Regions from separate parts of the Homo sapiens genome. Here region 1 is reported to be linked to region 2. The links are microRNA targets in miRTarBase. Many come from high-throughput screens and were not tested one by one. Region 2 holds a microRNA gene; the other region holds the end of a gene's coding sequence.
What was found. Region 2 holds the annotated microRNA hsa-miR-645 (UCUAGGCUGGUACUGCUGA, at 1,886-1,904, shown strand). A microRNA usually pairs through its seed, bases 2 to 8, with sites in the 3' UTR of a target mRNA and lowers its output. Matches are read on the target gene's strand: a 7mer-m8 pairs with bases 2 to 8, a 7mer-A1 pairs with bases 2 to 7 and ends in A, and an 8mer does both.

Region 1: the mRNA of NFYA is a reported target of hsa-miR-645. Seed matches in the 3' UTR shown: 7mer-m8 at 1,588-1,594.

What each region holds. Positions count from the first base shown.
Region 1 is chr6:41,096,952-41,099,951 of GRCh38, reverse strand. NFYA (nuclear transcription factor Y subunit alpha) reads right to left here. Exons shown (of 10, transcript NM_002505.5): 10 at 1-2,595. The coding sequence ends at 2,542. It also overlaps a transcript of OARD1 not described here. Among named protein-coding and RNA genes, the nearest start is that of NFYA, 25 kb to the right of the region's middle.
Region 2 is chr20:50,583,961-50,587,463 of GRCh38, forward strand. MIR645 (microRNA 645) reads left to right here and starts at 1,826; the gene lies at 1,826-1,919. It overlaps PTPN1 (protein tyrosine phosphatase non-receptor type 1), which reads left to right. Exons shown (of 10, transcript NM_002827.4): 10 at 1-1,281. RIPOR3 (RIPOR family member 3) reads right to left here. Exons shown (of 22, transcript NM_001290268.2): 22 at 2,148-3,372. The coding sequence ends at 3,272. RefSeq lists enhancers at 2,361-2,874, 2,875-3,387.

The sequences.
Region 1 (3,000 bases), not on the chromosome of region 2:
TTTAAAAAATAACAATTGCAATGACATTAATGATCGATCACCTGTACGCCCCCATACTGCTGGGGGAAAAACCTTCGATATAGTTGAATCCCAAAGAAAAATCAAGACATTATTATCAGGCACCCTATAGCCACAAAATGCTCTGTTGGTCCAGTGGCATCGACACTGACATGTTCAATGTACCAGTGCAGTTAAAATATATACACTTAAAATTATCCTGCAAAAAAAAAAAAAAGCACTCAAGTTGCATAACTAGGCATTAAACCAATTATTCATTCATCCATTCACTCTTTCTCCATCTGTAAAGTTATCACTACAGTCACAAATAAAAATGAATAAAAGAACTAGTATCAAAGAAAAAATCCAAATGTCAATACCCTGCCCCCACTTTGTGGGCTACTATGGTGTGCCAAAGTGACCACAAGAAAAGGGTCATGAGCTATTTGAAATGCAATGACAAAATGACAACTGAAGCATTTCAAACAAAATTCAAAGTCATCTCCCCCCAAATAAAAAATTCAGCAACAAGGCTGGCATTACTATGTACAAACTTACAGACACAAATAAATAGCATCTTCTAACTGTTGGCAGCTTAAGCACTCAAAGTTAGGTCTGAGTAATTTCTTTCTGAACTCTGCATCTTAGACTCCTAAATTAACCAAGGAATATAAATTCCTCATTGTTAGTAATCTATTCTCTGAAAAACTTGGGACTTACTGAATAACATTAATATCCCAAACTCTTGTAGAGCTAGAAGTTTCTAGTGAGCTTACCAAAGGATCAGTCCTTTGACATCTGGAAGCCAGGAGCGATTACCAGATCCCTGGGACTAGGAATATTTCACTTCCTGTTTCCTTTGCATAGCTCTGTACCTCTATTTCTATCATTACAATCATCTCTCTTTGTGGTGTTTTTAGAGGGCTTAATTTCTGTCTTAATACAGTTAAGCTGAAGTCAAAGAAGAACCAATTTTTATTCTTGGTATTTAACCCCCAATGTTCCTCGGAATTATTGGGTTTTCCTTGTTTCCAGAGAAGGCAGCCAACTCTTCTGAAATATCATCTTAGTTCTCTCAGGGTTCAACATCTAAAAGAGAAATAGATTTCTGAGGCACAACCCGTTCTGGGAACAGTGGCCCAGTTCCTGACCCTGCAGGCATGTTTCTTTCAGTCTGCAGTTTATTCTCACAGTATGGATGCAATGAGAAAACCTTTCTGCACAAGGCCTATGGAGAAAACATGAAAACTGGCACCAAAGAATCAGCTGCCATGGGAAGAATGAAAATGCTCGCTTTCTAGGGCCAGCATTGTGCTGCAGGAGTGAAGCCAACATCCACCTCAAGCTTTAGTGGGTAACTTGGACTCTGTCCAGGACAGTGTGACTGACCAGTGCTTTCCAGAAATTGTCAAGGATCAAATCTCAGGCTTCTTCCTTTCAGTGCTTGTTAAAGGTTCTAGAGTAAATGTGAATTACTCTCTTCATCTTAATGATCCATTCCAGGTATCCATCCACTGGAGAATCGTGCTCTATGATAACATACGGGTATACATGCTCTCTCTCTCTCTTCCTCTCCCCCACTCTCTCCCACTAGGCTGAAACACATGAATCTTTTAGTTCCCCAAATGCTGTCACAAAGTCTATGATTGAAAATCTCTAGTTTGGCCCTTCCTTTAGGAGTATTACAAATCTCCTCAGTGCTTCAGCAAAGAAGTTGTTGAATAGTCTTGTTCTCTACTTAGGAAAGGCAGTTTCAAGGTTTAATAACCCTCTACATTGTCTTAGAAGTAGCCACAGCAAGTACGATGGTCCAGATGACCAGTCAACAGAGGGACAAGCAGGCCACAACTTTTCAAAGCTAGAAAAAGAGATTCGGCAATGTATATTTTTAGTGCTTGAGTCTTTTATCATTCTATCCCCAGAATTAGCTTTTTCTTGGCTAGAGTCCAGAAATATCAACCTACCATCTGGGCAGAGAGGAATTCTTATTATTACCACAGATTGGAAGAATGTATCTCAGGAATTTATTGTTTCCGTATCACAAGATAGAACTTCCTTGCCTGGAAGCCATCTCTGAATACAAAGCGTCCATTCAGTTAGTCAGTGTGAGATTCCCCCACCAGAGGGATAAATGCTGTCTAGATTCCATGGGAAGGAGTGGGCTGCTGCTTTCCTGATTGCAGTTTTGGTTGAGAAGGTTGTTCTTCCCTGCTGAGATGGCTGGCTGACTTCACCAGTCAAGGTAAGTGCTTTGTGTACTGCTGGGGTGGCATGTGTCTCCTTGCATCATCCGAATCCATGAAATGTCAATGTCATCAACAGTCTGAAATAGGTCCTGACTGAAAGAGTAAGACAAAGGCTTGCAACTTCAATTTGCCAGGCATCGCTGCAATTGTAATACTGAGCCACTTATTAAAAACTAAGTGGTTTCTGTCCTGTAGTAAAGGGCAGAATGTGATCATCAATGTCCCATTGGAAGAGTTGATCAATTTCCTGGAACAGTGAGAAACATGACCTTGATCAGCTCCATCACATGGCGTGGGGTTAGGACACTCGGATGATCTGTGTCATTGCTTCTTCATCGGCTTGGTTTGGATCCTAGAGACAAAGATGACATGATGATTAAAGTCCTTTGCAAAAGCAACAGGAACTCATGGCTCTCACTACTTATCCCCCCAAGAGAATACACATAACTTTACCAAGTAAATCAAAGGCTTGTAATACATCTTAAGTCTGCATACATGGCTTAAAGTGTAGCCCCATTAGGAAAGAAGAGACAATAAACCTTATTCTTAAAATAATTTAAAGTCTGGCCTGCACTCCATGGTGAAACACTGCAGGGCTGTTAGTGTATCTCTTTCCTAAGAACCTTGTGTTGTTCTCTATACTTAAGGGTTAAGAGTATTCAGATTCAGGTGTCTAAGGAAAAGACCCAGAGAAACCATGTCATGCTGTATTTTTGTCACTGTTTTTTGATCATCATTTAAATACTGAGTACTTAGC
Region 2 (3,503 bases):
AAACAGCCTGGGTGACGGTCCTTTAGGCAGCCTGCCGCCGTCTCTGTCCCGGTTCACCTTGCCGAGAGAGGCGCGTCTGCCCCACCCTCAAACCCTGTGGGGCCTGATGGTGCTCACGACTCTTCCTGCAAAGGGAACTGAAGACCTCCACATTAAGTGGCTTTTTAACATGAAAAACACGGCAGCTGTAGCTCCCGAGCTACTCTCTTGCCAGCATTTTCACATTTTGCCTTTCTCGTGGTAGAAGCCAGTACAGAGAAATTCTGTGGTGGGAACATTCGAGGTGTCACCCTGCAGAGCTATGGTGAGGTGTGGATAAGGCTTAGGTGCCAGGCTGTAAGCATTCTGAGCTGGGCTTGTTGTTTTTAAGTCCTGTATATGTATGTAGTAGTTTGGGTGTGTATATATAGTAGCATTTCAAAATGGACGTACTGGTTTAACCTCCTATCCTTGGAGAGCAGCTGGCTCTCCACCTTGTTACACATTATGTTAGAGAGGTAGCGAGCTGCTCTGCTATATGCCTTAAGCCAATATTTACTCATCAGGTCATTATTTTTTACAATGGCCATGGAATAAACCATTTTTACAAAAATAAAAACAAAAAAAGCAAGGTGTTTTGGTATAATACCTTTTCAGGTGTGTGTGGATACGTGGCTGCATGACCGGGTGGGTGGGGGGGAGTGTCTCAGGGTCTTCTGTGACCTCACAGAACTGTCAGACTGTACAGTTTTCCAACTTGCCATATTCATGATGGGTTTGCATTTTAGCTGCAACAATAAAATTTTTTTCTAAAGAACATGAATTTGGGGTGCTTCCCATTTTTTTCTTTGCTTAATAGAGCTAAACCAGGATGAGTAACTCCTGTTTCTTTCTATCCCTGCTGATGTGAAACAGATGTTGTCAATCAGCTGGGGTTAGAGTTTTCCACTTCTAAGAATTAACCTCAGCATCCCTGCATTGCCAGCACCCTCAGGCTGGAGCGCTTTCCTTGACTGTGAGCTTGTTGAACACCTTAGGCCTCAGCCCATTTCCTTCCCAAATTGACGCTTTGCCTGTGTAGGGCCCTCAGATAACTTAACAAACTTACCAGTGTTGTTTGAAGAACAGTGTTTTGAGTTGTAATCTCAAAACCATATCCCTTACCCAATTACCTGTAAGACACAATGGTTACCACATCTCAGTACGTAAAGTCCACTTGATATAGAATTGACTTAGAAATAAGACAGATTAGTATAGTTTTTCATTTGTGTACAAAATTAAACAATGTAAATTCCCCCCAAAGTGATTTTTTTGACTTTTTGAAGTAATTTTGGACTTGCAAAATGTTGCCAAAATAGTACGAAGAGTTCCCCAGTACCCTCGAAGTTTCCTCGACTGTTTCAAAGCTGGCTGCAGGCCCAGGCTCATGAGACTGGGAAGAGGACAGGCTGTGGTCATGTGGACCCACAGGGGCCTGGGGCTGCAGAAGTCAGTGTGGCTTCCACCATTTCAGGTATAAAAAAGGGCATCTAAGCTTTCAAGAAGAGGGAGGATGCTCTAGGGCAGCGGTCCCCAACCTTTTCTGGCACCAGGAACCGGTTCCATGGAAGACAATTTTTTCACAGGCCTGGGGGTGGTGAGGGATGGTTTTGGGATAGAAACTTCCACCTCAGATCATCAGGCATCAGATTCTCATAAGGAGCTTGCAACCTGATCTCTTGCACACATTCAGTTCACAATAGGGTTCACGCTCCTAAGAGAACCTGATGCTGCAGCTGATCTAACAGGAGATGGAGCTCAGGTGGTCATGCTCAGTCGCTCGCCACTCACCTCCTGCCATGCAGTCCAGTTCCTAACAGGCCTCAGACCAGTACCGGTCTGTGGCCTGGGGGTTGAGGACCCCTGCTCTAGGCTGGTACTGCTGATGCTTAAAAAGAGAGGGTTTGCCAGAAATCAGATGGGACAAAAGGGCAAAGGCCGTGCCACAGAGTGCCCATATAGGGGAGAGCACGCCTGGAGCCTTCGAGAGCATGCAGAGAAGCCTGGAGACTGCATTTACCGGAGCTGCTGCCTGAGGCCACCCTCCAAGTGTCCCCACAGCGCACCACAAGACCACAGGAGTGACCTCCTCACTGGCAGGTATTTGGGGAAACAACTGCTGTCTACTCTTTTGGGTAAAAAGTGAAACACCAATAGTTTAATTGAAATTTCAGAAAATTGAACATATGAACAAGGCAAATAAATACTAAGTAAGTTAAAAACACAAAATATGTCCAGGAAGTATCGATGAGAATGTTCAAGTTAAAGTTCTCCAATGCCATTGCTACAGCAACCTCAAACCCTAGGTTCTCTCTGCACTATTAACACAGACATCTCAGGACATGGTTTGCTTTTTTTTAAGACTTAAATAGGAAACTAATTTTTCTTTCTTTAAAGCAATTGCGTTCTTCAGTGAACTCTTTCTTTAGGCCAGTTGATGGCTTCTTAGCAGTTTATTGACGAGATCCTAGGGTAGCTTCCGAAGCTGGGTTGATTGATTGCATTTGGGTGCGGATGGCCAAAGTGAGTGGCCCTACTGCCTGTGCTGCTCAGGGCTCCTGGGCTGATGTGGTGGCTTCTTCCCTTTGTGCTGCTGAACATAGGGAAAGTGAGGTTCACAGTCCACCATCCACCAGCCGCCGTCTGTGAGCTCCACCAGCACTCGCAGCAAGTCAGTCGGGCTGAGAGTGTGGTTGTAGAAACCCTGGCTTTGTGCCTTCCCACCTTCCCCAGCTCACCAAGGTGACACCTGGCTGCTGCTGAAATGGCCTGAGCAGTCTTGCATTAGCAGGGCCAGCCACCTGCCAGCCTGCTGCATCCCCAGTGCCTCTTGACGCAGAAGTGCCGAGCAGCTGACCGGCAGCGAGGCCTGGAGTTCTACACACTTGCCTTGGAGCCTTTTATTTAGGGCCTCAACTTGCCTGGCCTTGGCCCTTTTGTAGGTGGCCACCTAGTTTGGCTCAGCTCTGCATCTCGGGGAAGGTCACACAGACCCTCAGCCAGAAGTTGAGCGCTCTGTTGAGGCCGTGCAGCCCCTGGAATGCTGTACCTTTGCCTTGCTTTTTTCTGCCTCTGTACAAAAGACCAGCCCATGCCCTGGGGCTGGGTCAATGGCCGGAGTCTCAGGTAGAGCTCTGGGCAGCTCACACTCCTGGAGGAGTGCACAGCACCATTACCCAGAGTGCAGGCTATGTCCAGGCTGGGCAGCAGCAAAAAAAACGATGTGAGATTTGTGCTCATCAGCCAGGATTTTTTAAAATATTGTGATTTCAACATCTGCCTCCTGGCAAAAGACTTCTCTTTGTTCTGAGCAGAGCTTGTCCATCTTCTCAAAAGCTAACCGTCCTTTTTCACCTGAAATAGCAAAGGGACCTGTCAGCGGGTTGGATCCTGCCTTGGCACTTCCAACTCTCCTGGGCCAGGGTGGCCCTAGTGCTTAGTGACTGTGGGTCTCAGTGGTCTCTGCAAAGCGGCAGGGGAGGGAG